Regions from separate parts of the Homo sapiens genome. Here regions 1, 2, 3, 5, 6 and 7 are each linked to region 4. The links come from fine-mapping of genetic effects on gene expression. A gene starts in region 4. Each other region holds a variant in brackets. All regions are shown on one strand. Distances are from middle to middle.

Evidence for each region. PIP is the estimated chance that this variant, and not a neighbour inherited with it, causes the effect.
Region 1: its variant is the best candidate, but not a certain one, in a credible set for the expression of VSIG10L in whole blood (TOPMed, PIP 0.85).
Region 2: its variant is the best candidate, but not a certain one, in a credible set for the expression of VSIG10L in cerebellum (GTEx, PIP 0.83).
Region 3: its variant is the best candidate, but not a certain one, in a credible set for the expression of VSIG10L in whole blood (INTERVAL, PIP 0.64).
Region 5: its variant is the best candidate, but not a certain one, in a credible set for the expression of VSIG10L in esophagus muscle (GTEx, PIP 0.86).
Region 6: its variant is the best candidate, but not a certain one, in a credible set for the expression of VSIG10L in whole blood (TOPMed, PIP 0.88).
Region 7: its variant is the best candidate, but not a certain one, in a credible set for the expression of VSIG10L in caudate (GTEx, PIP 0.76).

What each region holds. Positions count from the first base shown.
Region 1 is chr19:51,420,234-51,424,299 of GRCh38, reverse strand. No RefSeq gene overlaps it. Among named protein-coding and RNA genes, the nearest start is that of SIGLEC10, 4.6 kb to the right of the region's middle. The variant G/T (reference allele first, on the strand shown) is at 2,203.
Region 2 is chr19:51,258,530-51,262,595 of GRCh38, reverse strand. The region is part of intron 1 of SIGLECL1 (SIGLEC family like 1); the gene reads right to left. All of the region lies in intron 2 of LOC107985327 (a long non-coding RNA gene), which reads left to right. Among named protein-coding and RNA genes, the nearest start is that of SIGLECL1, 9.5 kb to the right of the region's middle. The variant G/A (reference allele first, on the strand shown) is at 2,352.
Region 3 is chr19:51,434,354-51,438,419 of GRCh38, reverse strand. No RefSeq gene overlaps it. Among named protein-coding and RNA genes, the nearest start is that of SIGLEC10, 19 kb to the right of the region's middle. The variant C/A (reference allele first, on the strand shown) is at 1,651.
Region 4 is chr19:51,339,589-51,343,654 of GRCh38, reverse strand. It overlaps VSIG10L (V-set and immunoglobulin domain containing 10 like), which reads left to right and starts at 1,516. Exons shown (of 10, transcript NM_001163922.3): 1 at 1,516-1,570; 2 at 1,648-2,502; 3 at 2,929-3,222; 4 at 3,356-3,640. The coding sequence starts at 1,531. It overlaps VSIG10L-AS1 (VSIG10L antisense RNA 1), which reads right to left and starts at 3,635. Exons shown (of 5, transcript NR_186316.1): 1 at 2,938-3,635; 2 at 2,481-2,589; 3 at 1,670-1,805. RefSeq lists a silencer at 3,482-3,751.
Region 5 is chr19:51,360,765-51,364,830 of GRCh38, reverse strand. All of the region lies in intron 1 of ETFB (electron transfer flavoprotein subunit beta), which reads left to right. Among named protein-coding and RNA genes, the nearest start is that of ETFB, 3.6 kb to the left of the region's middle. The variant G/A (reference allele first, on the strand shown) is at 1,766.
Region 6 is chr19:51,429,279-51,433,344 of GRCh38, reverse strand. No RefSeq gene overlaps it. Among named protein-coding and RNA genes, the nearest start is that of SIGLEC10, 14 kb to the right of the region's middle. The variant A/G (reference allele first, on the strand shown) is at 1,989.
Region 7 is chr19:51,078,877-51,082,942 of GRCh38, reverse strand. KLK14 (kallikrein related peptidase 14) reads left to right here and starts at 56. Exons shown (of 6, transcript NM_001369775.2): 1 at 56-221; 2 at 307-368; 3 at 1,240-1,411; 4 at 3,241-3,494; 5 at 3,992-4,066. The coding sequence starts at 329. The variant T/C (reference allele first, on the strand shown) is at 1,953.

The DNA of each region.
Region 1 (4,066 bases), 81 kb before region 4:
GGATGGTCTTGATCTCCTGACCTCGTGATCTGCCTGCCTCAGCTTCCCAAAGTGCTGGGATTCAGGCGTTAGCCACTGCGCCTGGCCATTTTTTTGCATTTTTAATGGAGACAGGGTTTCACCATGTTGGCCAGGCTGGTCTTAAACTCCTGACCTCAGGTGAACTGCCCACCTCGGCCTCCTAAGGTGCTGGGATTACAGGTGTGAGCTACTGGGCCCAGCCTAATTTTAATTTTTACTTCTTGGTTGGAAGTTTGCATTTTTCACTGACTAATTTTAATATTTTCTGTTTGTCACTGAGTTTTAATTATTTGATTATTATGTCCCTTTCTGTGTGGAGAGCAGGAGTGTGTGTGATAGAAAAAGACAGAGAAGAGAAAGAGAGAGAGTGATATCTTGTTTCAAGTAGGTTGAGTATCTTGGATCTGTAAATTTACAGTTCTGGTCAAATTTGGACAATTGAAAGTGATATTTATGTAATTTTTTTCTGATTTTCTTCTCTCTATATACTGGACATTGTGATTTTTATGTGATTGGCTGCTTGATTTTGTTATATTCCATTAAACAGCATTGGTGTTTCTTCTTGAAAGTCACTTGCATTTAGGTTGACTTCTTTCTTTCTTTCTTTCTTTCTTTCTTTCTTTCTTTCTTTCTTTCTTTCTTTCTTTCTTTTTCTTGAGATGGATTCTTGCTCTGTCACCCAGCCTGGAGTGCACTGGTGCTGTCTCAGCTCACTGCAACCTCCGCTTCCTGGGTTCAAGCGATTCTCCTGCCTCGGCCTCCCAAGTAGCTGGGATTACAGGTGCCCGACACCATATCCAGCTGATTTTTTTGTATATTTAGTAGAGATGGGGTTTCACCATGTCGGCAAGGCTGGTCTCGAACTGCTAACCTTAGGTGATCTTCCCGCCTTGGCATCCCAAAGTGCTGGGACTACAGGCGTGAGCCACTATGCCGGCCTAGGTTGGCCTTTTTAAGGCTCTTTACCTTTCACCCTCTCCTGTGATGGACCTAGTGTTCTCTTTATTCCAGGGCTATTTTTATCTTCTTGGCTCTTCTTTTCCATCCACAGTAGGGGATCATTTCATGGGTAACTCATGTTTTGGGGAGCAAGAGTCCTGCTGTTCTGTAAATAACAGGAGAGTAAAAGAAAAGTTAACAGATGGGGGAAAATATCTGAAATGCACATATGTAACAGGTGTCAGATCACAGACAACTTAGGGGTTTGACATAAGGAGTTGAATCTTATTTTGGAAAACTAATGCTTGAAGTGAGTGTCATATCACACTCACACACCAGTAAGTCACTATTATATCTGACAATAAAGTGTTGCACTTGCAAAATTTTTCCTTCACTAGAAATTAGGGTGAATCCAAGTCTATCCTCTAGTGATATTTCACTCTTCTTGCCCTGCAACGTGTTATTCTGACTTGAAAAGGAAAGGACGGAGGCCCAGCTAAGAGCCCCTGAAATATACACGACCCCAATCCAGACAAAGCAAAGATGAATGACCTGAAAAGCCCCCAGGAGCGCATTTTCTTATGTGGACATCACATGCTTAATGTGCCTGGGTGGAAGTCATTTGGGAATAACGCTGTAAAGAGTGTGAATATTGCCGGGCGCGTTGGCTCACGCCTGTAATCCCAGCACTTCGAGAGGCCAAGGCGGGCGGATCACGAGGTCAGGAGATCGAGACCATCCTGGCCAACACGGTGAAACCCCATCTCTAGTAAGAAAAAAAAAATACAAAACATTAGCCGAGTGTGGTGGCGGGCACCTGTAGTCCCAGCTACTCGGGAGGCTGAGGCAGGAGAATGGCGTGAACCCGGGAGGCGGAGCTTGCAGTGAGCCGAGATCGCACCACTGCACTCCAGCCTGGCGACAGAGCGAGTCTCTGTCAAAAAAAAAAAAAGAGTGTGAATATTTTGAAGGGCTTTATATCTTGGGGAGGGTGGGTTTGGGATGAGAGAAGTGGAGTGACGATGGTGACTTCGTTTTTGCTTTAATGTGATTCCCCCGGAGGAGATCTTGTTCTAATGTGTGGCGAAAAGTAGCCTTTTTAGAGAGTACTGTCTGCAAACGTGTCCAGAGCCTGGGACTCGTTCCCTTGGGAGCCTCCCTTCTGCAGGACCATGGACAGCGCGGGCTCTGGGGCCCGAGGCTCCGCGGTGCCGCCTGCTCTGAAGGTGGAGCGCCCCCTGG[G/T]GGCGGCGTCCTGAACTGCAGCACAGCCCGAGGTGGGAGGAACCCAGGACCAGGTCCGGAGCTCAAAGGACACAAAGACGCTGGTCAGGGAAGGTCCAGATCGCCCTTCTTCCGACAAAACCTCCTGGGCTCCCTCGGGGTCTCAGCTGCAGCCACTCGTGGGCTCTCCATCCTCTCCAGGACCCTGGCCCTCGCCCCTCCCTCCTCAGGACGCGGTCCTCACGCCGCACCTGCGCCCCCCGGGGCGAGATCCTGCCCCGACCCCTGTCAGACACCCCCGCCTCTCCCTCCCCCACCTCCCACCGTCCCCGCCCTTCCTTCCAGCGCCCACTTGTGCCCTCGTGCAGCTCCGGGGTCTGGAGCCTGGGTGGGGCTTCCTAAACCCCTCCGTGTGGAATTATGGAGGAAGAGCAGGCGCCTAGCCCCTGCTGAATGAAGGAGAGGCGGGTGCGGGGGTGGGAGGCTGGTATTGAGGGAGCTGGTTTTGGAGGGAAGCAGCTCAGGGAAAACCCGAACCTTCTCAGGCCAGAAAACAGACTTGAGGCTGCCCAGAAACCAGTCCCGGGGCCCCAGGCAGCCTCTCCAGTCCTGTCTGACCAAGGCTGGGAGGGCGGCTTGGGTAGGAAGGGCTGGGAGCAAGTCGGGGCGTCGGGGGCTCTGGCCTCGCTGGAGAAGGGGACGTGGTGAGGAGGCCACAGAAACCACAGGAACTCAGAAAAGTGAAGAGGGGGGAATGGGAGGGGGCAGCGATGTGGAGAAACCCGCGGGAGGAGGAAGACGGTGCCGCTCTCCTGGCTCCTGTCGGCTGATCCCATGGGTGTGAAATGTTCAAAGGCAGAGGTGGGGCTGGGCCCAGGCTGGGGGCCCTAGAGATCATCAGCTCCTTAGGGACCCACCTCCACCAGGACCCAGGCACCTTTCCTCCCCTCACTCCTCCCTGGGAGAGGCCCTTTTCTGAGCTCTGTGGAGAGGAAGGTGTGATGTGTCCCACCACAAGAGCTCCCCTGCGGGAAGGAGGCTGGTGTCCTCAGAGAAGGCCCAGATTAGGTCACAGGGAAGCAGGGATCAAAGGGAAGGTGAAGCTGGGCTTGGTGGCTCACGCCTGTAATCCCAGCACTTTGAGAGGCCGAGGTGAGAGGGTCACCTGAGATCACGAGTTCGAAACCAGCCTGGCCAACACGGTGAAACCCTGTCTCTACTGAAAATACAAAAATAAGCTGGGCATGGTGGCAGGCGCCTGTAATCCCAGCTACTCGGGAGGCTGACGCAGAATCGTTTGAACCCGAGAGGCAGAGGTTGCAGTGAGCTGAGATCATGCCAGTGCACTCTAGCCTGGGTGACAGAGCACAACCCAGTCTCAAAAAAAAAAAAAGATAAAAATAAAATTAAAAATATGAAAATTAGCTAGGCGTGGTGGCAGGCGCCTGTAGTCCCAGCTACTCGTGAGCCTGCACCAAGAGAATCGCTTGAATCAGACAGGGAGCGGCTGCAGCGAGCCAAGATCATGCCACTGCACTCCAGCCTGGGCAACAGAGCAACACTCTCTCTCAAAAAAAAAAAAAAAAAAATGGGGAGAGGTGGATATTAGGGTCTGAATTGTGTCCCCCCTCCCCCCACCAAATTTCTGTGTTGAAGTCCCAACCTCCAGTACCTAAGAATGTGGCTGTACATGCAGACAGTCTTTAAAGAGATACAGTTGTTCCACTGTATTAGTTGGGGATTGGTTCCAGGATCCCCACCCCTTGGATACCAAAATCTACAATGCTCAGCTGCCTTATACAGTAGTGTTTGCGTGGGACCTCTGCACATCCTCCCATCTCCAGGTTACTTATCACACCTAATACAGTGTAATGCGGTGTAAATA
Region 2 (4,066 bases), 81 kb after region 4:
TGTGAAGAAATATAATGTGACCTATAAATGTGGACTACATGTATAATTTTAAATTTTCTAGCAGCCACATTAAAAAGGAAGAAATGGGTAAAATTAATTTTAATGATGTTTCATTTAACCTAGTGAAAGAAACCTAGGTTATTCACTAGGTTATTCATATTGAACCTAACCCAATATTTCAACATGCAATCAACACAAAATTGTTAAGATTTGGTACATTCTTTATACACTCTTCAAAATCTTGTATATATTTTACACTTACAGCACACTTCAATTCAGACTAGCCATAATATAAGGGCTCAATAGCCATATGTAGTTAGTAGCTACCACATTGGTCAGTGGAATTCTTTAATACAACATAGGAGAGTATCTTGGTAAGTTTTAGGTAAGGAAATATTTCTTTAAAAGGGCCAAAAAGCACTAGCTATGAGGAAATATGGATAAAATGGACTGTATCAGAATTAATTTCTGCATCAAAAGATACCATTAAGGAGGACAAATGCAAGTTGCAGGGCTGGAGAACATACTTGCAACACATACAACGTGCTTGCATCCAGAACATAGCAAGGATAAAGGGGGTAATGAATGGTGTAGTACATGAGTGGAGTGTTTGGGGTGTTGTTAATGTTCTATTTCTTGACCTCAGTGGTGGTTACACTGGTCTGCTCCCTTTGTGATAATTTGAGTTGTATACTTACTATCTGTATTAATACTTCTCTGTATAAAATTGTACTTTGATTTAAAAGCTTGTTTGAAAATAAAGACAGAGAAACAAACAGAAGGGATACAAAAGAGAATAGAACGGTTGGGACAAGTAGAAATCATGTACCTAGATGTTAGATTTAAACTCCAATACATCAGTGATTTAACTAAATATAAATGGCTTAAATTATCCAGTTATGAATCTAAGATCATCATATTGGAAAAAAGAAGCAAAGCCAAACTCCATGCTGTTTACAAAAGACACAACCAAAGCATAAGTGTAAAGGACAGTTAAAAAACCAAATGGGCCGGGAGCGGTGGCTCATGCCTGTAATCCCAGCACTTTGGGAGGCCGAGACGGGCGGATCACGAGGTCAGGAGATCCAGACCATCCTGGCTAACACGGTGAAACCCCGTCTCTACTAAAAATACAAAAAATTAGCTGGGTGTGGTGGCGGGCCCCTGTAATCCCAGCTACTCAGGAGGCCGAGGCAGGAGAATGGCATGAACCTGGGAGGCAGAGCTTGCAGTGAGCCGAGATCATGCCACTGCACTCCAGCCTGGGCGACAGAGCAAGACTCCGTCTCAAAAAAAGAAAAAAAGAAAAAACCAAAGAATGAAAACATACACCAAGCAAATACCAACCAGAAAGCCAGGTAATGTAGACATACCTACATTAACATCCCATAAAGCAGACTTTAAGCAAAAGGCATTACCAAAGATAGAATGGCATATCTCCTAATGATAAGCTGACATTAACAGGAATAAAGTATATATTTAAAATTTGTGTTTGCCTACTAACATAGTCCAAAAATATATAAAGCAAAAAATCTACAAAAATAAAAGGAGAAACAGACATCCACAATAGTAGTGTGACATTTTAATCACTGTTCTCTCAGAAACTGACAGAACAAACAGACTATTGGAATATATAAAGATTTCAACAACTTGATCAGCAAATTTGACCAAAAATATATAGAGAATACTGCAATCAATAACTGCAGAATACAATTTCTTTGTAAGCACACAGAGAACGTTTACAGAAATTGGCCACAGCTGGATCATAAGACAAATCTTAATAAAATTTCCATGAAAATATTTAAAATCTCATTAATAACCAGCAAAATGCCTGTTAAAACCATCAGATACCAGTACATATCCAAGACAATATATCAAGTCTTGGTGAGAATGTGGTACTCAACTTTCACACACTATTGGTGGAAATATAAATCAGGGCAACAAAGTTATTTATCAAAGCAGAAGATACACATACTCTATGACCCTCAATTCCACTCCCAGATGTATACTTTATAGAAATGTTTGTGCATATGTACGCCACAAAGGAATGCAAAAATGTTTACAGTGGTATTATTTAAAAATAGCTAAAAAGGTAAACAATCCAAATGCCAGTAAACAGAGAATTTTAAAAAATGAGATACTACACAGCAACAAAAACCTATGAGCTAATGCTAGATGCAACAACATGGACCATTCTTACAAATAAAATATTGAATGAACAAAGCCAGACACAAATAAGTAATAATGTATGAGCATTTCTTTAAAATTTGAAAAAAACCGGGCAAAATCAAGTGTTTAAGAACGCACACACAAGTAGTAAAAATCCTTTAAAAGTTGCCAAGAAATGTCCA[G/A]CATAAAAGGTAGGATATTAATTGCCTTTTTGGGAGGAAGAGGTCTGTTTCTCTGTTTATTTTATCATTTGTAGGGGGTATGAACAGGTCTTTTGAGATACTGGCTATAGTGAATTCCATAAGGCTGTACCCTATATAGGCATCCTTTTAATAGTACAGTTTCCCATTGCCCATCTGCCTGACCATATGGCCAGGCCATTGGCCACTGCCCATGAATTGGTAAAAACCCAAATGTGGAGGCAGTTCAGCCCACTGAAGTGACTTGTTTTTGCCTTCCTCAGTATGAGTGCCAGTCTTCCAAACAGGATGTTATTAATTCACTTTGGAATTGCCATCCATAAATCAAACCGCTCTTAGTTGGTCAATCAAGAGCTATTAATAGACATCATTCAAGTAATAATAGGATCTCGCAGCTCTTCAGTAGGGAAAAAGCCACCTGTTCATAAATATAACGAGGACCTCCTTGCATTTCCCTGGTAGCATGTTCCTGTATAAACAATTTCCATTTTATTACGAGACTCTTTTGGGCATGGCCTTCCTTACTACAGTGTTTTTCCAACATGACAAACACATCATGAGGATTTCAGGTGTCAGGATTATTATATCCTTCAATGATGGGGCAGACTCAAAGCCCAATAGGCAGCTAGTTGTCTCTCCATTGGAAATTTTCTGGCCCCAAATCCCAGCATTCACCACTGGGTGGTGCTCACTGGCCTTAGCTCCAGTCTGCCTAAATAAAGCAAACGTTAAGCTTCTAACATGTTTTGTCCACCAGATATCCTGTACTGTTTCAAATTAACAATTAGTGTGGGCTTGGGCAATCTTATTGGTTCCTATTTAGCATATTCAATCAATATTGGTTGAAGGGAAGATTTACATGCCTTCTGTTTCATAATAGTACGTAGGGGAACTCTTCCATAGTTGGACACAATATCTTTCCTCATAATACATTTAGGTAAATACATTCACATAACATATTTACATAGTCTGTCCAAACATTCCAATTTTCATCCAAAGTTTCGCCTGAATCTCATCCACTTTGTAATCCTATGTCTTCGCAATCTAACCATAGATGCTATTAGAATTTCACCAACCTTTTGGAATGCAGGTATAAGACTCCCACATGAGTCCCAGAAATATCTCTTATCCATCCCCTGACTATTTTACTACTAATATGCATATGACTTTGGGTCTTCAGTTAGGGGTCAGGCCAAGCAACCCAGGCCCTTTTGTCATTTATCTTGATTAGATCACATGTTCGTCCCCTCAGGAGATCTGAGGTCAGATTTCCCATTGTCATGTTTGCCTTCTGGCTTCTAAAATTCCTCCAAACTAGGGTAAATATAGCAGACTTGATGGGGGACCTTCAACACTGGAGGGCAAGTCTAGGTTCTCACTGCTCCACCTAATTTCTAAGAGTGCTCCACTGAGACCTTTGTTTAGACTCCCTCAATGTCCACTTAACTCATCTCATTTCTTAATAACTGTTTATAAAGATTTCCACCCTCTTGGAAATGTTCGTCTTTTCTCACTCTCTGGTGAACCACTCTAATTTTCTTTGCCATCTGTCATTTCAGCCTAACTTTTCCCTTTAGCCACAGCCCTGAGGCTAGCAGCTGTAGCTCAGGCTGGCCAGAGCCCAAGATTGGGCCAGCATCAGGATCCGCCTCAGCCACTTTCATTTTAACGATTACAGATAAAAATAGCCAAGGGAC
Region 3 (4,066 bases), 95 kb before region 4:
TGATCAGGGCAGGGAATGTTGAGTTGGATACACAGCCATAAGGGGGTGTCATGGGGCTGTGGGAAGTCCACGGACTCTGCCTCAGAAGGGAAATTACTTGATCTCTGTATGCCTCAGCGTCCTCATCTGCAAAGTGGACATCAGAGCTCCTACATTTATTAGCCTGAGAACAAAAACCAGGCAGAATAAATGAACAACCACAGCAGCAACAACAAACAAGAACAAGAGCCAAAAGCAAACAGAGAGATGAGCCCTTATATCATCGGACCCTGAAATCCAGCCACCGTTGAAGCCAGGTCTACCCCTCTGATTTCCAAGACAACAGAAATCAATGCTTTTTTTCATTAAAAGCCAAAAAAAAAAAAAAAAGCATGCTATAACATTGAATAGAAACAACTATGATTTTGAATGTGAATATTAATTATACTCTTGTGGTTCCTGGGCATTGCCTGATGCATGAATTGTGGGAGAGGCAATGAGAGCTGCTACAAAGCCCTATGGAGATGGAGATCATGCAGCAAATGGCCAAGGGCCATGAGCCTTAGAAAACCTGTCCTGGGGTCGGGCGCGGTGGCTCACGCTTATAATCCCAGCACTTTGGGAGGCCGAGGTGGGCGGATCACAAGGTCAAGAGATGGAGACCATCCTGGCCAGCATGGTGAAACCCTGTCTCTACTAAAAATACAAAAATTAGCTGGGCATGGTGGTGCGCGCCTGGAGTTCCAGCTACTCGGTAGGCTGAGGCAGGAGAATCGCTTGAACCAAGGAGGTGGAGGTTGAAGTGAGCCGAGATCGCACCACTGCACTCCAGCCTGAGTGACAGAGTGAGACTCCGTCTAAAAAGGAAAAGAAAAGAAAAGGAAAGGAAAAAAGAAAGCCATACACAGTGGCTCACATCTGTAATCCCAGCACTTTGGGAGGTCAAGGCAAGTGGATCATTTGAGCCCAGGAGTTGGAGACTAGCCTGGGAAACATGGCAAAACACCATCTCTAAAAAATAGGAAAAAAGAGAAAACCTGTCCTTATAAATTATGATGGCATCTCTACATGCAAACCTGTCTCCAGAGAAGGCACATTCCCATCCGCTCAATGCTGCTCATCCTCCTTAAGGAACTGAATAAAGCTGGGCATGATGGCTCACACCTGTAATTCCAGCATTTTGGGAGGCCAAGCTGGGAGGATTACTTGAGGCCAGGAGTTTGAGACCAGCCTGGCCAACATAGCAAAACCTCATCTCTACCAAAAATTCAAAAAACTAGTGGGACGTGGTGACACACGACTGTAATCCCAGCTAGTTGGGAGGCTGAGGTACAAGAATCTCTTGAACCAAGGAGGTTGAGGCTGCAGTGAGTCAAGATCATGCCACTGCACTCCTGCCTGGGTGACAGAGACTCTGGCTTGAAAAAAAGAAAGAAATTGAATGAGCTTTTTGCCCAGTGAGGAAAGATTTCTTGTATGTAAATTCATGTGCTCTTCCTTGTTCATCAAAAGTTATTTTCTGTACACTTCACATTCTCATTGATTACTAAGAGAAATTCCTCGTACATATCAAGCTTAATTAGCTTGTACTCTATGCCCGAATATCCCTATGTGTCTCACCATGGGGTGATTCCCTGTCCACCTTACCTTTTGAGCTTAAATCTTCCTTGG[C/A]GAAATCAGAATAACCTCAAATGAGAGCATAATTTCCTACTAATTCCATGTGCAGCCTCATATTTTCTCTGTTTCAACTTCAAAGTGTTATTTATTTTAGTTCCGAAAGGATGTGTTTCTTCATATTTTCATTTAGAAACAAGGAATAGAATCTAATTGTTGGACAAAAGTCAGAGATGGAAATTCTTATAAAAAATCCTCCTTTCTTTGTCAACAAGCCCAATGTACCCTGAGAATCATTCTTATCATGGATATCGAGTGTGGGAATAGGTCAATGGGGGATTGAACCTTGAACTTCTGAGGGTTTGAACCCAGAAGTTCAAACTCCAGTCAACCTATTCGCTCATAAAAACATGGAGGAAAGAACTGGATGTGGCTCCTCGTGGCTGTCGGGAAGATGCTGTTGGAGCTTACAGGATGGAGGTGTTGCTCTCCCTTTCAGCTGCAGGAACGGCATGAGCCTTGAGCTGGGGAGACCTCACATTGCACGAACATTGCTAGCCAGAGAATGAAGATGGCTCAGGCACCTGCAGCCCACCATGCGGAGAGCAAGAAACAGCACCCTGAGGGTCACATTGGATATCAGTGATGTGCTGATCTTGACCTTGAGTTAGGAGATGTTCCCAGATTCCCCACTGCCTGGGCCAAAAATTAAGCAAACGTGTTTTTTTAATAAAACCCTTCTTTTCCAGATTAAGCTATCGGTTTTCATTTCTGTTCCTTGCAATTTAAAAAAATGAGATTATCGAAAAAATGAGCAGAGGCTTTGCTGTAAGAAATTTCTATATAGATTTTTTTTCCGCATGATTATTTGTTGATCTAAACTCATGGCATGGGAGATGACAAGGTTTCAGTAAAATGCCTGTTATGAACTGCATGTTTATGTTCCCCCAAAATTCATATGTTGAAGCCCTAACCACCAATGTGATGTATTTGGAGATGGGGCTTTTTGTAGGTAATTATGTTACATGGGGTCATGAGGGTGGGGACCCACTATGGAATTAGTGCCTGATATGGTTTGGCTGTGTCCCCACCCAAATCTCATCATGAATTTCCACGTGTTGTGGGAGGGACATTGCGGCTGGTAATTGAATCATGGAGGCAGGTCTTTCCTGTGCTGTTCTCATGATAGTGAATAATTCTCACAAGATTGATGGTTTTAAAAAGGGGAGTTTCCCTGCACAAGCTCATCTCTTGTCTGCCGCCATATGAGACATGACTTTCACCTTCTGCCATGATTGTGAGGCTTCTCCGGCCACGTGGAACTGTAAGTCCATTAAACCTCTTTCTTTGGTAAATTGCCCAGTCTCAGGTATGTCATTACCAGCAGTGTGAAAACGGACTAATACAGTGCCCTTATAAGCAGAGACCCCACAGAACTTGCTGTCTCTCAACCATGTGAGGACACAGTGAGAAGGTGGCATCTACAAGCCAGGAAACAGAGCCTCACAAGAAAACAAATCATCTGACAACTTGATCTTCTAACCTTGGACTTCTAACCTCCAGAATTGTGAGAAATAAATTTCTGTTGTTTATAGGAGGCTTAATTTATAGTATTTTGCTATGGCAGCCCAGACTAGCTAACACAGTGCCCTAACCACATGTATTCCATGTGGCTACAGTATTCTCTGCACAGTGGCCAAGTATGGTGGCTCATGCCTGTAATCCCAGCACTTTGGGAGGCTGAGGCTGGTGGATCACTCGAGGTCAGGAGTTCGAGACCAGCCTGGCCAACATGGTGAAACCTGGTCTCTACCAAAAATGCAAAAGTTAGCTGGGTGTGGCGGCGGGCGTCTGTAATCCCAGCTACTCAGGAGGCTGAGGCAGGAGAATCACTTGAACCTGGGAGGCGGAGGTTGCAGTGAGCTGAGATCGCACCACTGCACTCCAGCCTGGGCAACAGAGTGAGACTGTCTCAAAAAAAATTATACAAAGACACTTTATTTGTAAGGTAATATTTAGAAGTTCAAGGAGCTGAGACTGTATTTCTTTGGGTGGCCATTATTCAGCTTGCTGAGCTGTCCATGTGATCTCTTATGCATTGGAACTCTTGTGCATTGCTGATGGGAAAGTTAAATGGTGAAGTTGCTCTAGAGAGTAGTAGTGGGGTTCCTCAAAAAAATTAAAAATAGAATGATCTTATGATCCAGCAATTTCACCTCTGGGTATATGGCCCAAAAGATCAAAAGCCGGAACTTGAGCATAGTTTTATGCATCTGTGTTCACAGAAGCATATTCACAGTAGGTAAAAGGGAAAAGCAACCCTGCTATTCCTAAAAAGTGAATGAATAAACAAAGTGTATTGTATACATGCAATTGAATATTACTCAGCCTTAAAATAGAAGGAGAAGCTGGGCTGGGGCATGGTGGCTCACGCCTGTAATCCCAGCACTTTGGGAGGCCGAGGTGGGCATAT
Region 4 (4,066 bases):
TGCACACCTATACTCCCAGCTGCTGCAGAGGCTGAGACGGGAGAATCACTTGAACCCGGGAGATGGAGCCTGCAGTGAGCTGAGGCACTCACTGGGTGACAGAACGAGACTCCATCTCAAAATATATATATATTACCAGTATTATTACTGGTGAGAACTGGGCCAGGGTAAGCTTAGAGGACTGGGAGCTGAGCAGAGGCCCTAAGCTCCACATGGGATGGTGGGAAAAGCTATCAGAAGGAGTCAATGGTCTGACCATCCTGGTCCCAAGTCCAGCTTCTCCCTCTGGCTGTGCAACCTCCTGCAGGTCCCTTGACCTCTCTGAGCCTAAGTCCCCTGGCCTGCAAAGTGAGTATAATGACACTCAGCTTATAGGGTGTTTAGAAGTGTTCAGCCTGATAGTGCATAGGAAACATTTAGCGTAGTTCCTGGCTCAAATTAAGTGGTAATTATGGTTCTTAATAAGGTGAGACCTGAAGGACAAGTTGTGGTTTAGCCAGGTTGGAGGGAGGTGGAGAGTGGGAGAGAGCATTCCAGGTAGAGGACTGGGAGGTGAGATGGGCGGGCAGGATAAGAATGGCAGGATGTTCAAGTGCTTGAGTGGGGGCTGTGCATGAGTTTGCTTTGAACCTTGGATGTCTCCAGAGGGCACTGGGGAGCCAGGGGAGGGCTGTGAGCAGGGGGAGGCAGGTTCAGCTCTGGGTATAGAAGGACCCTGGCAGGGAATGGAGGAGACTGGGCAGAGGAGGGAGACGGGGCAGGAAGAGAAGACAGAGCCTGGCCAGTGAGAACTAGGGGGAGGAGGGTTGGACTCAGATCGACAGTGGTGACAGGGAGGGAGGAGGTGGGAATGTTCTCCAGCATTTGCGAAGACAGTGAAGCCATCCTGGAGGTGTGAGGAAGTTTGGGTTAGAGGAAAGAGTCTGAGTTTAGCGGGACACAGGCCATGTGAGGGCCTCGGGGATGCGGAAATGCAGCTCTGGTCTCAGGATAGAGGCCCTGGCAGGAGATAGCACCTGGAGACTTGGTTCTGAGGGCAACAGAGAGCCGTGGGAGGGTTTGGAGCAGAGGAGGAGCAGGGTCAGATGTATCTGAGGCTGCAGGCAAGACAGAGTGGAAGGAGCCAGGAGGCTGGGGAGGAGGAAGCCTGCTCTGAAGCTGTGGCCATCAGAGGTGGGGCTCTCGGAAAGGTCACCTCACCCTCCTCCAGGAAGTCTTCCTGGCTTTGTCTCACAAATTTGCTCCCACATTTTTAGCTGGGAATGTTTTCTCCAGCTTCCCCCTGGGGGTGGGGAGGGCAGGGATCAGGCTGGGCCTCTCTGCAGATGGGACCAGCTAATGAAGAGAGTGGGATGAGGTGGGCAGCTCAGCCACCACACTGGGGTTGAGGATCTTGGCACCTCCCTCTGGGTCTGGCTCCCTTCCCCTCCCAGGAAGCTAAGCTACCAGTCCTGTTGGACTCGTCTGACCCGGGAGGGATGGGTGCAGTCCTGGGTCTCTCTCCAGTGTCCTTTCAGTGAGGCCAGCACCATGGACAACCCACAGGCTCTGCCACTCTTCCTACTCCTGGGTAAGTTCCCTGCTCAGTCCCTTCCCTGTCAGTCTCCCTCAGCAGCCTCCCCCAATGCCTTCCTCTCTTCTCTGCAGCCTCCTTGGTAGGGATCCTCACCCTCAGAGCCTCTTCTGGACTTCAGCAAACCAACTTCTCCTCTGCCTTCTCTTCAGACTCAAAGAGCTCTTCCCAGGGGCTGGGTGTGGAAGTTCCCTCCATCAAACCTCCCAGCTGGAAAGTTCCAGATCAGTTCCTGGATTCAAAAGCCTCTGCTGGAATCTCTGATTCCAGCTGGTTTCCTGAGGCCCTGAGTTCCAACATGTCTGGGTCCTTCTGGTCAAATGTTTCTGCTGAGGGCCAAGATTTGAGCCCGGTTTCCCCCTTCTCTGAAACCCCTGGTTCTGAAGTATTTCCTGATATTTCGGATCCTCAAGTTCCTGCCAAAGACCCCAAGCCTTCCTTCACTGTTAAGACCCCAGCTTCAAACATTTCTACTCAAGTCTCCCATACCAAACTGTCTGTTGAGGCCCCAGATTCAAAATTCTCCCCGGATGATATGGATCTTAAACTCTCTGCCCAGAGCCCTGAATCCAAATTTTCTGCAGAGACCCACTCAGCTGCAAGCTTTCCCCAGCAGGTGGGGGGCCCACTCGCTGTGCTGGTGGGGACCACCATCCGGCTCCCCCTAGTCCCAATCCCCAACCCTGGGCCCCCCACCTCTCTGGTGGTCTGGCGCCGGGGCTCAAAGGTGCTGGCAGCTGGGGGCCTGGGGCCAGGGGCACCTCTGATCAGCCTGGACCCTGCTCACCGAGACCACCTGCGATTTGACCAGGCCCGGGGGGTTCTGGAGCTCGCCTCTGCCCAGCTGGACGATGCAGGGGTCTACACGGCTGAGGTCATCCGGGCAGGGGTCTCCCAGCAGACTCACGAGTTCACGGTGGGTGTGTATGGTAAGTGGGCCCTGGCGTCCGGCGTGCAGGCGGCAGGGGCTGCTCTGCTCTGCCAGGCTTTGGGCAAGTCACGGTGCTGTGGGGTCCCTGGATAGGAGAAGAGGACTTCTGGGTTGAGGAAGGGAGAAAAAGAGCTAGAGGTCAAGGCAGGGGTGTCTGAGCAAAGGTGGACCTGGGATGGAGACTCCTGGGAGCCTGAACTCCCAGGTCTGAGGGAGGAGGAGGAGGCTAGGAGCCTCTTCTGGCGAACTCCTGGGTCCCGGAGAGGAGGTGTCTGGGGGCTCAAACTCATAGGTTTATGAGAGGAGAGGGATGGGGGCTGAGACTCCAGGGGCTTAGAGGGAGCAGCGGCTGGGGTTCCCTCTAAGGGGACCAAAGATGGGCTCCAGGACTGGGTGGGTCCTGAGCCCATTCTCCCTCTCCCAGAGCCCCTACCCCAGCTGTCGGTTCAGCCCAAGGCTCCAGAGACAGAGGAGGGGGCGGCCGAGCTCCGGCTGCGCTGCCTGGGGTGGGGGCCAGGTCGCGGGGAGCTGAGCTGGAGCCGGGACGGACGCGCCCTGGAGGCGGCGGAATCGGAGGGAGCCGAGACGCCCCGGATGCGCTCAGAGGGCGACCAGCTGCTCATCGTGCGCCCTGTGCGCAGCGACCACGCCCGGTACACTTGCCGCGTCCGCAGCCCCTTCGGCCACAGGGAGGCTGCCGCCGACGTCAGCGTCTTCTGTGAGTGGGGGATGCCTCGGGTCGGGGACAGGGGGTCCTTGGGGAGAAGCGGGCTGGGGACCCAGTCTCCGGGAGTCCTAGCGGCGTCCCAGGTGACCCTGACACTCGCGGTCCCGACCCCTCCTCCCTCCAGACGGCCCGGACCCGCCGACCATCACGGTCTCCTCGGACCGCGACGCCGCGCCTGCCCGCTTTGTCACCGCGGGCAGTAACGTGACCTTGCGCTGCGCCGCCGCCTCGCGGCCGCCCGCCGACATCACGTGGAGCCTGGCGGACCCGGCCGAGGCCGCGGTGCCCGCGGGGTCGCGCCTCCTGCTGCCCGCGGTCGGACCGGGCCACGCAGGCACCTACGCCTGCCTGGCGGCGAACCCGCGTACCGGCCGCCGCCGCCGCTCGCTGCTCAACCTTACAGTGGCGGGTGAGAGGCTGGAGCGGGAGTAGGGGAATGCCTGGGAGAGGGGCGGGGCCAGAACGAGGGCGGGGCTAGAGGAAAGGGGCGGGGCCAGCAAGGAGGAGCAGCATACCGGTGGGTGGGGCAGGGCCAGCGGGAGGGCGGGTCACCAAGAAGGAGCTGGGATACCCGTGGTGGGGCGGGCCAGCGCGGAGGGGCGGAGACACCTAGGATAAGAGGCGGGGCCAGAAAGAGGATAAGGGAAGGAGCCAAATAGAGTGGCAGGGATGACCAGGACTGACGGGCCGGCCCAGCACTGAGAGGGCGGACATTCCTGGGCATGGAACACTCGACAAAGTCGACAAGCGGAGTTAAATGGCAAAGAGTGGGAGTTAGAAAAGGAAAGAACTAATTTGCTTAAGTGGGATCAGCAAAGGGAGAAGTTACCTGGCA
Region 5 (4,066 bases), 21 kb before region 4:
GAGTTACGATCGAAACCCCGGGCAAGTCTGGCTCTAGACTCTGCTCTCCCATCTCCCTCAATGCCCCCTGTCCTAATGATGCCTCTGGCAGCACATGACAGGGATGTCACCTGTAGCCCTTTTGAGACACATTCCTCTTGGGGTCCTGGGACCCAACACTTGGTTTCCTCCCTGCTCTGACTGTTCGTTACTGTCACATCTTTGGAGTCCTACAGCTCCCTGGGCCTCTTCTCTCCATCCCAGCCCTGGCCTTCCACGCCTGGCATGTCTGGGATTGGATCCGTCTCCCCCATGGTGCAGGCCCACGTTTGACTCAGCTCTGGTCCCAGCATCACTCAGCACAGAGCCTGGCACATGGATGTCTCTGGTGTGCTCAGGGAGAGAACAGAGGGGAAGCGTGAAGGCCGCGTTGAATCAGCTACTGTCCTTTCCAGAGGGTGCTGCCTTCCCCTCCCGCAGTGCCCCAGGGCTCCCTGCATTACATCCTGTCTCACTGGATGTGTCTGTTGATGTCCTTTTCAGAACAAATAAATGATTCAGACCCTGCCAGCTTCCTAAACACCAGATTAGACCTGGGTACTGTCCCACCCTCTTTCCCTTCTCCCAAAGCTGTCAGTTCTCCACCCCCCACCCTTCTTGCCCTATTGTCTCTTGGTGTCATTGTCTCACCTGGACCCTCACCCGGGTCCTCCCTCACTCCCAGTCTCTCCCTCTCAGCCCACCTCTACCCAGCCTTAGGGGCCTTTCTGCACCCAGAGCTCACCCTGCTCTCCCCTGCTCCCAGCCTGCCTGTGGCTCCCCAGCACCCTCAGGACAGAGTCGCAGCCCCTCTGCCTGGCATTTGGGATGCTTTGTGGTCCAGCCTCCTCTTCATGGTCTGCTTCAGCCGTCCACTTCCCTCCTTGGACCCTCCCTTACCCTTTGTGCTTCTGCCACTGTGACCTGCTCCTCCTGTCCTGACAGACCAGGCCGCGGCTTGCCCGTTCCATGCCTTCTTCCAGCACCACCCTCCTACCTCTGCTTTCTGTCCTTTGTCCTGCCCAACTCCAACTCATGGATTATATCAAAATCTAGTGATTCTCGGCCAGGCGCGGTGGCTCACACCTCTAATCCCTGCACTTTGTGAGGCTGAGGCGAGTGGATCAGTTGAGGTCAGGAGTTTGAGACCAGCCAGGCCAACATGGTGAAACCCCATCTCTCCTAAAAATAAAAAAATTAGCCAGGCATGGTGGCACGTATCTGTAGTCCCAGCTACTCGGGAGGCTGAGGCAGGAGAATCGCTTGAACCTGGGAGGCAGAGGTTGCAGTGAGCCAGGATTGTGTCCCTGTACTCCAGCCTGGGTGACAGAGCTAGACTCAGTCTCAAAATAATAATAATAATAATTTAGTGATTCTCCCTGGCATCGCCTCCTCCAGGAAGCCCCTGACCCTACACCCTCAGGTTGCCTTGGTATATCCCTGGGGGCTTCTGCAGTCCCTAGATTTGCTTCCATCAGCCCTCGCCAGACTGGATTGGGATCCTCTGTTTACCCCATGTTCCCCACTGCCCTACTCCATCATCCCCAGGCTGGTAGCTCCCTGCAGAGAGGGGCCATGTCTGATCCACCTCTGTTCCCAGAATCACGTGCTCACTCCCTGACCTCTTTCACCTCCTTTTCAAACATCACCTTCTCTGGGAGGACTTCCCTGCTTGCCTCCTTAAAATCACAGGCCCCAGGTCCCTGTGTTTTGCTGTGTTTTCCCCTATACTTAGCAACTAGAAAGG[G/A]AGAGGAAAGTATGTTTGCTAGAGATGAAAGTTCAAGGAGCCAACCTAACTGAGTGGAGGGAGTGACTCACATTCTCCATGAAGGAGGTGGGAGCAGGGGCACCCTCTGAGAGCCCAGCTTGTCCCCAGAGGGAAGCTGGTGTGGACACTTTGTAATCCACAGTGTTGTTTACTTATTGATTGCTCTGGTGTCTGTCGCCCCTTCTGGAATTTGAGCTCCAGGTGTGGGGGAGACAGTTTGATGTGGTCACTGCTTCCTGAGACAGTGGGTTCACTACTAGAATAGTGCAGACCTCAGACTCCAAGCCCAGCGCCTGCGTCCACTTCCTGCTGTGTGACCTTGAGGAAATTGCTTCACCACTCTAAGCCTCATTTTTCTACTCTGTACAATGGGGATGATGGTACTATCTACTTTATTGAGTTGTAATGAAAATTAAATAAGCCCTTGGAACAGTGCCTGGCACACAGTGGTTTGTTTTGTTTTATTTTTTGAGACGGAGTCTATCTCTGTTGCCCAGGCTGGAGTGCAGTGGCATGATCTCAGCTCACTGGAACCTCCACTTCCCAGGTTCAAGCAACTCTGCCTCAGCCTCCTGAGTAGCTGGGATTACACGTGTGAGCCACCACGCCTGGCTAATTTTTGTATTTTTAGTAGAAACGAGGTTTTGCTATGTTAGCCAGGCTGGTCTAGACCTCCTGACCTCAGGTAATCCACCCGCCTCAGCCTCCCAACGTGCTGGGATTACAGGTGTGAGCCACTGTGACCAGCTGCAATAAGTGTTTTTATTGGGAGTAGTAGTAATGGATGTTTAGTTAGTCATTTATTCAAAACATAACAAATGCTGTGCTCAGAGTGTATTCGTGTGTGTGTGTGTGTGTGTGTGTGTGTGTGTGTGTGTGTGTATGTGTGTCCGGCTGTGTGTATGTTTCTGGGTATGTGCGTGTATCTAACATTTTAATAGGTATTTGGCAACTCAGTAACACCCTGTCCTGTTCAGGGGCACATTTTACAGGAAGCTGATGAAGCTTAACCTTCAGGGCCTCTTTCAAGACCCCAGGAGAAAGGCTGGGCCTGGTGGCTCACGCCTGTAAACACACACTTTGGGAGGCTGAGGTGGGTGGATCACGAGGTCAGGAGTTCAAGACCATCCTAGCCAACAGAGTGAAACTCTGTCTCTACTAAAAATACAAAAATTAGCTGGGCATGGCGGCGCGTGCCCGTAGTCCCAGCTACTCGGGGGGCTGAGGCAGAAGAATCGCTTGAACCAGGGAGGCGGAGGTTGCAGTGAACCGAGATCGTGCCACTGCACTCCAGCCTGGGTGACAGAGGGAGACTCCGTCTCACAAAAAAAAAAAAAAAAAAAAAAACCCAGGAGAGGCTGGGCAATTTTGTATTCATTATCTGGGATTCATTTTCTTAGAGATGACCCCACAGGATAGAAACTCCAGGCCCAGAAAACGTGTTTCCATCTCGGGGCCCAACCCCGACCAGCCACACCCTCTCGTCTGGGAGCGCCTGGTGTTTCTTCAGGTTTTCCTCTTTGGGCTCCACGCACTTGCCCCTCCTGCTCTCAGCAAGGCCACCTTGTCTGACAGGGCACACGTGGGGCTCACATGTCACCTCAGGGACGAGTTCTCTGTCTGCCCCCCGCCGAGTTAGTGATCTGTCACTGGGGTGGCTCCCTGGCCTTGGCTGTCCTGCTTGCTGAGTGCCCTAGCACGTGCCCAGGGACTCGCTTGACAGAAAAGCCTAGAGGACAGAACCACACAAGTCCTTGAGCTGTGTCAGGGGTTCAGGAAGAGCTGTCGAAAATCACTTTATAAAATCCCTCTTGGGCCGGGCGTGGTGGCTCACACCTGTAATTCCAGCATTTTGGGAGGCCGAGGTGGGCGGATCACCTGAGGTCAGGAGTTCGAGACCAGCCTGGCCAACATGACGAAACCCCATCTCTACTAAAAATAAAAAAATTAGCCAGGCGTGGGCCGGGCGCGGTGGCCCACACGTGTAATCTCAGCACTTTGGGAGGCTGAGGCGGGTGGATCACAAGGTTAGGAGATTGAGACCATCCTGGCTAACACGGTGAGACCTTGTCTCTACTAAAAATACAAAAAATTAGCCAGGCGTGGTGGCAGGCGCCTGTAGTCCCAGCTACTGGGGAGGCTGAGGCAGGAGAATCGCTTGAACCCAGAAGGTGGAGTTTGCAGTGAGCCAAGATCATACTACTGCACCCCAGCCTGGGCAACAGAACAAGACTCTGTATCAAAAAGAAAGAGAAAGAGAGAGAGAGAGAGAGAGAGAAA
Region 6 (4,066 bases), 90 kb before region 4:
GAGGTGTGTAGAGGAGGCAAATTCACAGACACGGAAAGTAGAGCCATGCTTGCCAGGGGCTGTGATCAGAAAGAAATAGGGGGTTTTCACCTCTTTGATGCAGTTTCAGTTTGGGAAGGTGAAGAAACTTCTGGAGATAAATCATAGTGATTCATAACAACGTGAGTGTACTTGGTGCAACTTCTCTAAACACTGAAAAATAGTTAAAACGGTAATTTTTTTCTTCTGTATATTTTACCACAATTAAGAAAAAAGCTACTGAAGATTTCATAGCCACCTCACCAAAAAAGAAAAGCAGATGGCGAACAAGGCCGTGAAAATAGCCTCAATATAATTTGTCATTAGGTAATTGTAGAATAGAAGAAGAATGAGGTAGAATTACATACCTAAGAAAAATGACTGAAAAGTACAACAAAGGTAACAAGAAATTTTAAAATATGTGGATGATATCACATGCTAGCAAGGATGTGAAGTGATCAGAGCTCATGTCTACTGCTGGTAGGAATACAAAATGGTATATACACTTTGGAGAATAGTTTGTCAATTTTGTATAAATTTAAACTTACACTTGACCAAGTGTACGTCTGACCAAGCACTCGACTCCTAGGTTTTTACTCAAGGGAATTAAAAACTTATGTTCACACGCAGAAAGTTGAATGGAATGTTTATAGCAACATTATTTTAGAGTCACCAGAACCTGAAAACAGTTGCAATGCTCCGCAAATGGCAAATACATGCAAAATGAGAGACCATGAAAACAATGGAGCACCAGTCAACAATTAAACTAAAATGACAGATTTATACCCAGCCCCATAGATGAGCCTCAAAAGCATTATGCCAAGTAAATGAAGCCAGATTTTAGAGGATACATTTTGTATGATTCCATTTATATGACATTCTATAAAAAGGCAAAATGGCAGGGATGGAGAATAGATCCGTGTTTTCTCAGGGACTAAGTGTAGAGGGAGGATTGACTACCTAGAGTCAGCAGAGGGAGGAAATGTTCAGGTAATGACACTTTTCATTGTCTTCACAGCGGTTGTGTATATAACTATATGCATCGGTCAACCCACATAAAATTACATATGATAAAGAATGAATTCAACCATATCTAACTTTAAGTAAATTTTTAAAAATTAAACATAAGATGCCACTGCACTGTCACTAGAACTCTTAAAATATAAAGCATAAGCTGGGCACAGTGGCTCACGCCTATAATCCTAACACTTTGGGAGGCCAAAGAGGAAGAATTGCTTGAGGTCAGGAGTTCAAGACCAGCCTGGGCAACATGGTGAGACCTCATCTCTACAAAAAATACAAAAATTAGCCGGGCGTGGCAGTGAGCACCTGTGGTCCCAACTACTCGGGAGGCTGAGGTGGGAGGATTGCTTGAGCCAAGGAGGTGGAGGTTGCAGTGAGCCGAGATGGTGCCACTGCACTCCAGCCTGGCGAGAGATTGAGACTCCGTCTCAAAAGAAAAAAAAATACTAATTGTTTGCAAGAATATGGACAAGTGGGAGCCCCTTTGCACTGCATGTAAAATGGTGTGACCCTGTGGAAAACTCTTTGGAATTCTCTCCGAAAGTTAAGCCTAGAAATACAGTGTAATCCAGCCATCGATTCCTAGATATGTTCCCAGAATTGAAAGCATGAACTTAAACAGATACCTATACATCAATGTTCATAGCAGCATTATTTACAAGAGCTAAAAGGTGGGGAAAAAAAAAACTCGCGTCCATTGACTGATAAGTGGATAGAAAAAAGGTTCCATATCCATAATATGGGATATTCTTTAGCCTTAAAAATTGAATGGAACTGATACATGCTATAACATGGGTGAACCTTGAAACAACATGCCACATGAAAGAAGCCACACATAAAATGACAAATAGTATATAATTCTGCTTATGTAGCCTTACCTAGAATTGGCAAATTCATGGAGACAGAAAGTAGAATTGCGTATCAGAGGCTGGGGAACAGGGCAAGGA[A/G]GAAGGGTGATTGTGCAAATGGTGCAGAGTTTCTGTTTGGGATGATGAGGAAATTCGGTAAATAGTGGTTGCACAACATGGTGAATGTGCTTAATGTCACTGAATTGTACCCTGTAGAATGTTACAAATTGCAAACTATATGTTACATATTGTATAGTCAGGTCTAGCACCGCTATAAAGAAATACCTGGGACTGGGTAATTCAGAAAGGAAAGAGGCTTAATTGGCTCAAGGATCTGCAGGCTGTACAGGAAGCATAGCAGCCTCTGCTTCTGGGAAGGCCTCAGGACACTTACAATCATGACGGAAGGTGAAGGGGAAGCAGGCAGGTCTTACAAGGCCAGAGTAGGAGAAAGAGAAAGAGTAGGAGGCTGGGCACGGTGGCTCACACCTGTAGTCCCAGCACTTTGGGAGGCTGAGGTGGGTGGATCACTTGAGGTCAGGAGATCAAGACCATCCTGGCCAACATGGTGAAACCCTGTCTCTACTAAAAATACAAAGAAGACAATTAGCCAGGCATGGTGATGCATGCCCGTAGTCCCAGCTACTCAGGAGGCTGGGGCAGGAGAATCTCTTGAACCATGGAGGCGGAGCTTGCAGTGAGCTGAGATCACGCCACTGCACTCCAGCCTGGTGACAGAGCAAGACTCTGTCTCAAAAAAATAAAATAAAATAAAATTTATCATCGATATACATACGTGTGTGTGTGTATAAAAATGTAGCACATATAGGGTTTGCCCTGTCTGTGGTTTCAGGCATCCACTGGGGGTCTTGGAAGCTATCCACTGTGGATGGGGGACTACTCTAGAGTAAATCTTTATAAAGTGATGACAAGAGATGATGGGGAAAGAGGATGATAAGAGTATGACAATTCCTCCAATAATTAAAAATAGAATTCACATAGGATCCAGCCACTCCACTTCTGGTCTACATGAAAAGAAGTGAAAGTGGGAACTTGAGGGCCAGGCATGGTGACTCACGAGTATAATCCCAGCACTTTGGGAGGCCGAGACAGGCAGATCACCTGAGGTCAGGAGTTTGAGGCCAGCTTGGCCAGCATGGTGAAACCCCATCTCTACTAAAAATAAAAAAATTAGCTGGGCATGGGGGCAGGCTCCTGTAATCCCAGCTACTCGGGAGGCTGAGGCAGGAGAATCACTTGAACCTGACTGGCAGAGGTTGCAGTGAGCCAAGATCATGTCATTGCACTCCAGCCTGGGCAACAGAGTCCCAGAGTCCGTCTCAAAAAAAAAAAAAAAAAGTGGGAACTTGAATAGATATTTATACTCCCGTGTTCATGGCAGCATCATTCGCCAGAGCCAAGAGGTGGATTTCTGGAGAGGCAGATGAGTAAGCAAAAGGTGGTAAAATCATACATTTGAACCTGTCAGCCTTAAAAAGAAAAGAAATTCTGACACCTGCTACCACAAGGCTGGGCCTTGAGGACATTATCCTAAGGGAAATACAGTCATGAAAAGTCAAATACTGCACAGTTCCACCTACTGAGATTTCTAAAGGAGTCATATTCACAGAAACAGTGAGTACAGTGGTGTTTGCCAGGCACCCAGGACAGGGAAAATGGAAAGTCGCTGTTTTGTGGGTACAGAGTGAATTTTGCAATATGGAAGAGTTCTGGAAATTGGTTGTACAACAGAATGAATATGCTTCACAGAACTGAACCGTACACATAAACATAATGACAATGGTGATGTTTATGTTCTGCATTTCCTTTTTACCAAAATTAAAAGGTATTTGAAAGGGTAAGAGCTGATTGCAGGTAGAGAAGAGAAGTTCACAGGACAGAGCCCCAGGAGAATCCAATGAGGAAGACGCACCTGAGAACCCGGCTGTGTCAGCCTCCCCGCTTATTCCTATGGACGTCCCTTTACCGTGGGATCCAGACCCCATTTCCCCACAACAGTGGGGCTCCTGGACCCCAGAGGCTGCATTGTGTTGGGACCTTGTTTCTCTCACTGCACCGGCTCCCCTCCATCAAGCTTAATAACTCGCAGCTGCATAATTATGTTCATGGTTTATTGTCTGCTCCCTGCACGGGAGAGTAACCTGGATCAGGGTCAG
Region 7 (4,066 bases), 260 kb after region 4:
GGCAGGGCCAGCTGTCCTTACCAGGGATAAAAGGCTTTGCCAGTGTGACTAGGAAGAGAGACACCTCCCCTCCTTCCTTCATCAAGACATCAAGGAGGGACCTGTGCCCTGCTCCACATCCTCCCACCTGCCGCCCGCAGAGCCTGCAGGCCCCGCCCCCCTCGTCTCTGGTCCCTACCTCTCTGCTGTGTCTTCATGTCCCTGAGGGTCTTGGGCTCTGGGTAAGTGCCCCTTGCTGTCTCTGCCTCTCAGCCCCCGGTTCTGTTGAAGGTTCCTTCTCTCTCACTTTTTCTCTGCATTTGACAGGACCTGGCCCTCAGCCCCTAAAATGTTCCTCCTGCTGACAGCACTTCAAGTCCTGGCTATAGGTAAGAGAACGGTTGGGTATGACACAAGGGGGTCCCCTGGAGACTCTGAGAAGAGATGGGGATGGGTCCTTGGGGCCCCTGGATGCTCATGGTGACCTCATAAGAAAGAGCAGGGAGTGGTTTGGGGGTCATGGTGGGGGAACGTGCTGGAGGCCTAAATTCCTAGTTGTGGAGGTGCTAGGGAATTGTGGGGCCGGGGAGAGAGGTGTTTATAAGGTCTGGTGCAAAATACATAAGGAATCTTAGGGAACTATTAGGTCCTGAGTGGGTCATAGCAGAAAGATCACGGGGCTCTACCTGACTGTGTTAGGAAAGAAACAATGTCAGAAAGATGTTTTGTTGTCAGAGGGAAGGTGGAGAAGGATGATGGGATGGCGGGATCGTGGCATGGGGTGGCGGGATCGTGGCATGGGTGTGTGAGGTGGATGGGGGCAAGTGTGGGGCAAGAGATGGCGGATCCTTGGGGTCCCACTGAGTGGGAACGTTGGGGAGGAGACAGGGAGGTCCTTGAATGTGTTGGGGAAGGACTCATTGGGGGGAAATGTGGCATATTTCGAGAAGTGATCACAGAAATTATGGGAGCATAGAGCTAAGGGTCGTAGATGTAGCAAGGCCCTGGATAAGGTGGCCACGGCACAAAATAAGAGATGCTACGGAGGTGACTTGGGAGGTGAGTCAGAAAGCTCTCCGTGCTGGGGCAATAACGGGGTCAATATTGGGCATGTCTCACCCTGGGTGGGACAGATAGAGGCGGGCAGTTTAGGGGTTAGACCAAAAGGAAGGGGATTTGTCAGTTTTGGAATCCTACAAACTTGTGGAGTGGAGAGTGTTTGCTCATCTACTTTCCCCACCCAATCCTGTCCACTCCTAGCCATGACACAGAGCCAAGAGGATGAGAACAAGATAATTGGTGGCCATACGTGCACCCGGAGCTCCCAGCCGTGGCAGGCGGCCCTGCTGGCGGGTCCCAGGCGCCGCTTCCTCTGCGGAGGCGCCCTGCTTTCAGGCCAGTGGGTCATCACTGCTGCTCACTGCGGCCGCCCGTAAGTGACCCCCTCCCCTGTCCCTGTACCTAGTGAATTCCAGAGTCTAAAGCCCTAGAGCTGAGCTGAGAACCTGGATCTCTGTATAGAACCCAATGTAGTGGCTGGCTCCTGGTTTGAGGTCTAGAGAAGAGCCTGGAACAAAAACACAGCTCGGGATGTGGGCTCCTCCATAAATCTCGAACTCAGCATAGGTTCTGAAAGCAGATGGGCAGCTTGGAACCCATGGACCTGCTGAGAACCGAACATCTGATCCAGTGATTCTTCCAGAGGCCACACATTACATCGAGACCAAGCTTAGCCCATTCCAGATTGGTGGCTGAATTCAGGACCCCGTCTACATTCAGAAACTCAGGACACTACGTAGAACTCAGAGCCCAGTTCAGGACCTGCAGTCTAGCCATAAATCCAGAACTAGAACGCTGCTCACAGCTGGAACATACAACTCTAAGAATAGAGGCAAAACCTGGAGGCTGTTTCACACCCAAGGTTTAGTTCAGAGTCTAGTCTATAGCTCCGCTATGAGCAGACTTCAACCCAG[T/C]GTTTGAATCCCAGAATGTGGCGGGTGCGGTGGCTCATGCCTATAATCCTAGCACTTTGGGATGCTGAGGCAGGCAGATCACCTGAGGTCAGGAGTTCGAGACCAGCCTGAGCAACATAGAGAAACCCTGTCTCTACTAAAAATGCAAAATTAGCCAGGCATGGTGGCACATGCCTGTAATCCCAGCCACTCGGGAGGCTGAGGCAGGAGAATCACTTGAACCTGGGAGGCGGAGGTTGCAGTGAGTCAAGATCGCACCATTGCACTCCAGGCTAGGCAACAAGAGCGAAACTCCATATCAATCAATCAATCAATAAATCCCAGAATGCAGATCCTAATCAGAAGCCCCATATAAAACCTAGACCCCTCCTAAATTCTAGATCTGAACTTACAACCCAGACCCCAGCCAAGAGGTCAAAATGCCTATAAGCCATATCTATGCCATAAACAGGTCAGTCTAGAACCTAGAGATCAAAGCTCAGGCCAGAGTCTAGAATATAAAGGCCAGAATGCAAACCAGACTCTAGAATCTTGGATCCGGGCCATAACCTAGAGCTCCAACTAGAACCCAGAGCCCAACCTGAGGTCAAGGGCTAGGGCCAGAGTCCAGAACCAAGAGCCCTATAATCCAATATGAAACAGACCTGTAGAGGCTGGGTGCGGTGGCTCACGCCTGTAATCCCAGCACTTTGGGAGGCTGAGGCGGGAGAATCACTTGAACTGGGAGTTGGAGGTCGAGAGTGAGCTGAGATCGTGCCACTGCACTCCAGCCTAGGTGACAGAGCGAGACTCCATCACAAAAAAAAAATAAATAAATAAATCAAGTCATAATCCAGGTTCGATCTAGAATCCTGATCTTAGCATAGAGTCAAAAGTTTAAGATGTCTAGAACTCAGAACCCAGGCTAGAAACAGAATGGTGCCTACTCCGGAATATCAGTTCCGATTTAGAGCCTAGACTCATAACGCAGTTTCGCTTAGGACTCAATGCACCGAGCCCAGCACAGACCCTGGCACGGAGCCAAGCTCTCCCAATCATCACCTTCTTCCCAAGCCAGGAGCTGGAGCCCAGCCCAAGAGCGGAAGGAGAGGCAGCTGGGGCTGGGCCGAGAGAATGCCCTGGCCATGGGGAAGGGCACAGGAGGCCAAGAATGCTCGGCCTGCAGTTAGTGAGAAGCAGGCTAGACCTCGGGGAAGACTCGTCACCCGGCCAGGGAACCGGGCTGGAGGGTGGGGAGGAGTCTCTGGCTCAGACCCTGAGCAGCGCTTCTCTTGGGGGTCGTGGCCAGGATCCTTCAGGTTGCCCTGGGCAAGCACAACCTGAGGAGGTGGGAGGCCACCCAGCAGGTGCTGCGCGTGGTTCGTCAGGTGACGCACCCCAACTACAACTCCCGGACCCACGACAACGACCTCATGCTGCTGCAGCTACAGCAGCCCGCACGGATCGGGAGGGCAGTCAGGCCCATTGAGGTCACCCAGGCCTGTGCCAGCCCCGGGACCTCCTGCCGAGTGTCAGGCTGGGGAACTATATCCAGCCCCATCGGTGAGGACTCCTGCGTCTTGGAAAGCAGGGGACTGGGCCTGGGCTCCTGGGTCTCCAGGAGGTGGAGCTGGGGGGACTGGGGCTCCTGGGTCTGAGGGAGGAGGGGCTGGGCCTGGACTCCTGGGTCTGAGGGAGGAGGGGGCTGAGGCCTGGACTCCTGGGTCTCAAGGAGGAGGAGCTGGGCCTGGACTCATACGTCTGAGGGAGGAGGGGCTGGAGCCTGGACTCCTGGGTCTCAAGGAGGAGGGGCTGGGCCTGGACTTCTGGGTCTGAGGGAGGAGGGGCTGGGGACCTGGACTCCCGGGTCTGAGGGAGGAGGGACTGGGGGTCTGGACTCCTGGGTCTGAGGGAGGAGGGGCTGGGGGCCTGGACTCCTGGGTCTGAGGGAGGAGGTGCTGGGGCTGGACTCCTGGGTCGGAAGGAGGAGGGGCTGGGGGCCTGGACCCTTGGGTCTTATGGGAGGGTAGACCCAGTTATAACCCTGCAGTGTCCCCCAGCCAGGTACCCCGCCTCTCTGCAATGCGTGAACATCAACATCTCCCCGGATGAGGTGTGCCAGAAGGCCTATCCTA